Linked DNA regions of Homo sapiens. The protein of the gene in region 1 interacts with the protein of each later gene in a biochemical or structural test. Each region holds a gene or a part of one and is shown in the gene's direction. Other genes may lie near its edges.

What was found.
Region 2: the proteins of NFIA (region 1) and ETV7 form a complex in vitro, tested with the Homo sapiens proteins (one study listed by BioGRID).

Annotation. Positions count from the first base shown.
Region 1 is NC_000001.11:61,456,418-61,460,163, forward strand, and holds part of NFIA (nuclear factor 1 A-type), read left to right. Parts: 3' UTR 1-3,746.
Region 2 is NC_000006.12:36,385,648-36,389,393, reverse strand, and holds the start of ETV7 (transcription factor ETV7), read left to right. Parts: upstream 1-1,724; 5' UTR 1,725-1,852; coding exon 1,853-1,858; intron 1,859-2,463; exon of another isoform or gene 2,464-2,774; intron 2,775-2,873; exon of another isoform or gene 2,874-2,993; intron 2,994-3,724; coding exon 3,725-3,746. UniProt on the Homo sapiens protein: Transcriptional repressor; binds to the DNA sequence 5'-CCGGAAGT-3'. Isoform A does not seem to have a repressor activity. Isoform C does not seem to have a repressor activity.

The DNA of each region.
Region 1 (3,746 bases):
CAATATGTTAACTACATTAAATGCTAATTAATTATTTTCTGTTATCAAAGCACATGACTAAAATGAAATCATGGTATCTGTTAATTTTATAAGCTAGAAGTCACTATAATGGATTACGCCAATTCTAAAAAATTTTACACCTATCTGGCATCATAGGATTTATCAGTTATCAGACACCTCATTGTACCAGAGATTGTCCAGAAGTTTTAAAGACCTTTGCATCCCTGAACTGGGCTATGGGAAATAATAATAGTAATAATAATAATAATAATAATGATGAAACCAATACTGACACAAATGCTGGTGCCCATTCAGATCAAGGGTACTTGTTAGGGAAAAAAAAAAAAGTTTGCACCCCCAAACGTCCTGTATCTTATGAAAAAAAAAACAAAAAACAAAAACAAAAAAAAAACACAAAAAACCACAGAAACAAAAACAAAAAAAAGTGCAAGTGATTTTTCTACCAGACAGCGAAGCACCCCTTTGCTTCCCATGCGACTTCAAGAAGGTTTCCTATACTATACATATATATACGTTCTGGTTGGCAAGCCCTGCTGATCAGAGAAAGTCTCTGCATGTTCTAGTGTTAGTAACTAATTTTTATATAGTTAATGTAGGATAAAGTAGAGTGCATTAAGACACAATATTGTAATCCCTACTCTAGGCACTTGCCTTTAAACTATGTTTTTCAGCCCTTCAGAAGGGTTCTACTACTGTCCTATACAATCAAGTAACTGAAATTCTTGGGAAGACACTTTGCTCCTCATCTTTCTCCCCGAAACAATGTTGTTTTGTTTTGTTTTTTTTCCTTAATTTGCACGAAAACAAAAATTCCATATCAATGTGCCTTGCCCTGGATAGCGATTATTTGTGGAATTGTTGCACATGCTCCTCTATTGAAAGGGGTTTTTCCCTAGTCAAGCATTTGGAGACACTTTTTGTAAATGTGACTTTTATGTCAGCCATCGTCAGTTTCAACATCTAGAACTAAATAGAAAGCTAGTTGTTCCGCAGATAGGAGTAGTCTTTATTGTCCTGTACGGTCGGTGGCAGTGCTATTCTGAGATCTGTAGATGCTTAGAATATCAGTATTTTGGATGTTGCTGCATTTTACAATTTATTTGGAGTCTTCCTTTATTTTCCCCCAGATATATGAAAATATGCAATACCTGCTTATATCATGTAGAAAAGCTTAGCAATTATTAATTTTTCTTTTATTTTTTTTTATTTGACCAAAGTCGGTGCTGCACTTGACGCAGTGTGTTTTAGGTGTTTGTCTTTGTACTTTTTTGTGATTTTTGAATGCACGTGCGCAGGAAGGGCTCCTCTTAGAGAAGCAGTCAAACTGTGAAGCACTAAGCTGACCCTGCTTCAAGCAATTTTGTTTTTACAACTGTTCCTTTCACAAGCAAGCCTTAAAAAAAAAAAAGACAACTTCCTTTTTCTTCAGCTCCCACACCCCATTTTTCTTAGCAGACTGCAGTCAATCCACATTCAATAAAAAGTATATAATGCCCATTTTTATATGCACGTTTTTAAACTTCCAAGTTCTGAAAATTGTTTACTGGTTATCTCTATTTAAGGAAAAAAAAATAAAATAAAACATTTTGGATTTTCATATGTGTCTGATAAGTGGTTGAATAGTCGTTTGGCGCTGTTGTATGGTGTGATTGTCAGTGTATGGTGTCACTTCCTATAGCCAGCCAGCATACTTTGCCTTCCCCTATAGCACTTAGCTGGGCATTACTTTATTATGACATATGTGCACTAAAAAATGAAAAAAAGGAAAAAAAGAAAAAAAAAAAGAAAAAATAGCAGCTTTCAGTGCTTCACAGTGAAGGGAAAAAAGCCTAGACAAACATTTTGTCAGAACCTTGCAATAAGCCAAGGTATTACCAGTAAATTGGTTGTATATACAATAAAATTGCACCCTTTTTTAAACAAAACAAACTAAGCAATAGTTTGGGCAGTTTTAGTTGTTTTTAGTGAGCATGTTGTAGTCATGACTGCAAAGAGAGAGAATAAACTGCCCGCTCAGAAGATATGTAATTTGTATTGTTGTATAGTTTTATTGATTACACTGATTTATTCTACCCTATTTTATAATGCAGGACTTTTGTAATGTTGTTTAAATGAGGAAAAATTTCTGTCAAATTAGCCTAGTAAAATTTCTGATCGTTCATTATAAAGGCAGCGTTCATAGAATTGCTTTTCTTTCTTTTTACCCCCCCTTTGGGAACTGGATTTAAGTTTAAAACTTTCCTGTTTCCTTTTTTTTTTTTTTTTTGTAAGTATTTAAATACAATTATTTTTTTCTCTCAATGGTATAGCATATTCCTATGCTTGAGAAGTATAGGTCTACTGAAAAACCATTGTAAATGGACGTTACAGGTATGCTGTATTTTTGAAGGTATTTTGTTGTATTAAGTTTGATGAAGCTAAAATTAGGGAACTCTGAACAGATTTGCAGGAAAAAATGTTTTAAAGGCTTTAAAACATTAGGGAGGCAGTCTAGGGTGATAACGAACAGGGGTTAAGTATTAAATACACGAAGTTACATTTTTGTTCATGTTTCATTGTCCAGAAAGCAGCAGGAAACTATTCAGTTGTGATCAAGCAGGAAAAAAGAAACACCAACAGTTGCCAGTGTTTTTGCTTTTTAGCTTAAAAGCATAGTGAAGATGCTTGAGGAAGACTTTGCTACCTGGGGTGTGTAGACAGACAGACTGAGAGCTATCAGCATTTGAAGGCCCAGCCCTTGACTCTGAGACACATTTGAATTTTTTCTTTCCCATCAAATGGCATTAACAAGATTGGGCAAAGATGAGTCCCTCAAATTTCTGTGTTTTTTGTTTGTTTGTTTGTTTGTTTTTTCTTTGGGAACTGAAGTCAGAGGCACGAACACTAACTCTTAGCATTTTTCTGTAGACTTTTTCTTCTGGCCCTTGTCCCTGCCAGCAAAACGCCCCTTTTCTGATCATTCGTGCGCAGAGGGCCTCCCAGTAATGCCACGCTCTCCATGCTAGAGAGCCTTCTCTTTCCTCTGAGGTTTGAACTGATGTTCTGTGTCTTCACACCCTGGCATGACAGTTACGTGTGGTCAGCCCGCTCCCCAGGCCCGTCCCTGCCGCCGCCAGGTGTGGGCTCTAGGCAGGCCGACAAGGTTACACCTCCCAGAGCTTGTGATCTTCATTTTCTGACAGTCAAAGTGTGAAGGAACCCAGACTTCCCCGAGCCACGGTGTTCAGTCAGCCCACAGGAATATGCAAGACCCATCTCCAAAAGTTTGTCTTTGATTTTTTCCAAGCCCTTAGCCCCATAAGCTTTGAATCCTGTAGTTACAGTGGCATAAAGGACTGACAAAACCTGGATAAGGAAAAACCTTTTTTTTCTATGAATTTTTTTTGTTTTTTAGGGGAAAGGGATTCTAAGAATGTCATTTAATGTACTTTGCATCATGTCTCTAGAAATATCTTTGTCCATAGTGGTGGTGGAGTCTCTCTCTCTCTCTCTCTTTTTGTTTGCTTCTGTTTTCTTTCTTGTCTTCATTCTTTCTTTTCTTTTTTATTTCTGGTAGCAGGCCTCCATAGAACAAATCTAAAACACAACCACCATAGTAATGTAAGGAGAGCTTCAGTGGCACCTCAAAACCCACCCTTCGAGATCTGTCCAAAGACAGTCTCAGAAAGCTGCACTGCCCACCGGCTCAGCTTTCATTCAAAAAGGCTTCCAAGGCCAATTCTGTC
Region 2 (3,746 bases), on another chromosome or scaffold:
TTGGGAGCTGAGGTGGGAGATCACTGGAGCCCAGGAGTTGGAGGTTAAGGTGGGCTTTGATGGCACCACTGCACTCCAGCCTGGGCGACAGAGTGAGACCCTGTCTCTAAAAAAAAAAAAAAAATAGAAAATTAAAATTAAAAGAAATGAATGTGCATTAGTTTATCAAGCCTCCTTTTGTGGACACCTGAGTTATTTCTCATACTTTGCTATTATAAACCATGATTAAATAAGTAACTATGTATACTTTGGATATTTGTTGAATAAATTTCTGGTAGGCAGATTGCTGGGTGAAAGGAAAATGCATTTGTAAATTTGCCAGACCCCGCTGTGGGGTTGCACCACTTTACCTCAGCTTTTCCAGCAGATTATGTTAGTAAACTTTTAAATTTTTGCCAAATTTATGGGTAAAAATTTCTATCTCAGAATAACTTTAATTTGCACATTTAAAATAGTGAGTTTGTCTGAGCATCTTTTTCTTTCTCTGCTGCCCAGGCTGGAGTGCAGTGGCACAGTCACGGCTCACTGCAGCCTCCAACTCTCAGGCTCAAGCGATCTTCCATCCTCAGCCTCCTGAATAGCTGGGGCTACAGGTGTAGCCCCACCATGCCCGGCTAATTTTTTAAATTTTCAGTAAAGACAGGATCTCACCATGTTGTTCAGACTGGTGTCCAACTCCTGGGCTCAAGCGATCCTCCCACCTTGGCATCCCAAAGTGCTGGGATTACAGGCATGAGCCACTGCACCCTGGGCATCTTTTTGTATATTCAGGAGCCATTTGGCATTTCCTTTTATGTGGACTGTTTATTCATATCCTTTGCTCATTTTTTTTTCCTACTGGGTTTCTGGCCTTGTTCTTACTGGTTTCTTATTGCTGGCCTAGAGCTTGTGATGATATACCAGTGCTAAGCCTACTTTGTAACAGCGTCTACACCCTCAGATTTTCAGCAGAAGGTTGTTAATGCTTTTCTTTCCTTTTCTTCGGTGTCTTCTGGTTTGTTTTTATGCGCACAACCTCTCTTGAGACAGGGGGAGCTGAGACAGATGGAAAGGGTGATGGGTGGGCAGGCACCAACCCCGGAGCACCCAGAGGCCCAGGAAAAGGTGTCAGTCGGGATCTCCGAGTAGTCTGGCCCTGCTCAGGAGAGCACAGCCGCTCTGATGGTGGTGCGACGGTTCCGGACCTGTGGGGCCTCAGCGGGGCCAAACGGCAGGCCGAGACAGTATCGGGGCCGGGAAGGTCACTCACCCCTAAAGGGAGAGGCACCATGCGAGGCCCCTTCCTATCCTATGTGCGGAGACTCACAGGGTCCTTCCTGGTCCTGGGCTCGGGACCGTGAGAGACGCAGTTGGTTCCGAGTTCAGGACTAGGGGTCCCCTTAGATCCTCAGATCCTGCAGAATCCCGGCTCTGCCCCAGTGGGAGCCAAGGCCAGGTCGCCAGAGGGACTGTCCGCCGGCTGGAGGCTGTGTGCAGGACCCACGCCTCCCAGGCTAGCGAGCGGGCAGCGCCCCGGTGCTGCGCTCCCACGGGGCCGGCCCCTGCCCTGCCCTGCCCTGCTCCTAGCCCGCAGCGGCGCAAGTGGAACCGCATCCCGCTCTTTCGTTTTCGTTTCCCGGAAGGATAGCGATTACCGGAGCGCCTCGCGCGCCTGCCCGCCTGCGGAGGACCCGGGCGCACACGCCTTGGCGCTTCTCGAAAGAGATTTCCTCCCACGCGACCTTCCAGTTCTCGGAGCCAGGTTAGGGGTTTGGCGGAGGAGGACTGCGGGGCGCGGGCCTAGGGCCCCAGCAGCCACAGCCAGGGGAGCGCTCAAGACAGAAAGCCGGTGGCTTCCTCACCTCCACCTGTAATGCAGGTAAGAGCCTGGCGGCTGAACACGCAGCGCGCACGCAGAGCCACCTGCTCCCGCATCCTTTCCTCACCACCTAGATTTCCAAACCTATTTTATCAGACCTTTTACCTGGCGGGAATCTCTCTTTCCAACACATTCCTAAACCTCACATCCATCCCTCACTCACTTCCCCTTCCACCTCCAGACGCGGGTCACCGCCCCTGACTCTCTCGGTGTCATACACAGCTCTGAAGGCATCACGCACAGCCCCTGCGGGCCCTTTCCGCAGCCCCCTTACCACTGGTCGCCCCTACACCAACCAGATGTGAGGTCTTTGGAAGTTCGTGCGCCAGCCAGGTCCTCACAGCTGGTGAACGCATTCTCGCAGGGAGCCCCTCTTTAGCAGCCTCTCCCCACTCGCCGGTTTTCTAGGTGCCTCGAGACTGCCCCCAGAGCTGGCGCCCCGTCCCACTCCAAGGCCTTTCTCCACTCCCCTCTCGCCAGGACCCATACCCATTATCAGACCCTTCCCTGGCCTCCATGCTGAAACCCAGGAGTCTGATCCTCAGCAGCTCCGTGGCTGGCGTTTCCCAGGCAGTTACAGCCTCGGAATTCCCCGCTCCTCTTACTTGGATGAGGACAGAGGAGTAGACAAAGAGCCTCCTGCAAGCCTCCTTGGCAAGTCCGAGGCAAGTCCTGTGCCTTGAGCCCCTTCTCCAGCAAGGCAAGCTTCCCTTTCCCCACCAGGAGGCAACCCCTGAGGTCTGATTACTTGGGAAACAGCACCAAAGGGGGACCGGCTGGAAATGAAGTGAGAACGACCCGGAAAGGTGTTGAATCCCCTTTCGCAGCAGCCAAGGCTTCTGGAGTTTGCTTTGCTGGCTCCGATCCAAATTCTCTCTCGGCAGATATCTCTCCTCGGATCCCAAGAGATGAATGTAAAGCTTTTGACAATCCTAGAGTGAAAAATGACTTGATGGAGCTGGTTTCACTTTTCCTTTCCGTGCTGTGGCAGCCTGTGGCTGGGCATGAGCCCGAAGGAGCTTCCTATTCCTACAAAATCCTGCCACTTTCTTCATTTTCTCATCTGAATGGATGAACCCCGTCATCTCTGGGGGCCATGCTGATTGTTGAATTGTAAAGATACAGGCTTCCCGTGGTGAGACCTTAGGATTCAGAAATGTATCCTTATCCTTTCTTTTTCTCTTTTGAAAATAGTGTTTGTTTGTTCTGAGACGGAGTCTTGCTCTCTTGCCCAGGCTGGAGTGCAGTGGCGTGATCTTGGCTCACTCCAACTTCCGCTTCCCGGGTTCAAGTGATTCTCCTGCCTCAGCCTCCTGAGTAGCTGGGATTACAGGCGCCGGTCACCACGCACGGCTAATTTTTGTATTTTTCGTAGAGATAATGTTTCACTATGTTGGTCAGGCTGGTCTCAAACTCCTGACCTCAAGTAATCCACCCGCCCCAGACTCCCAAAGTGTTGAGATTATAGGTGTGAGCCACCGCACCTGGTCTATTTGTTTATTTCTGATTTAAGGTCTTTTGATCCTGGCCCCTCAGGTTTCCTGTGTTGTCCTCACCAGGGATCCAGTGAGGATTCCTAGGCTTTCAGATTTCAATCATACAAGTCTTGGCAGGGGATCCCTCTTGGAGTTAGGCACATGCATGGAAAGCTTGAATTGGAAGGATGTCATTTATTGTGTCCACTGGGTACAAAATGTTGATGGTACTGAGTTGAAGATATACATGGTTCCTACCTTTAAGGTTGATGCAGTCTTCTGGTGGAGATAAACACTCTTTCCCTTCCAAAAAAATTCTTAAGACATTTAAAGATGGCTGAGCCTTCACCAAGATGCTCTTCTTTGACTGTCCTGGTTTTTCTCTCTCTAGGAGGGAGAATTGGCTATTTCTC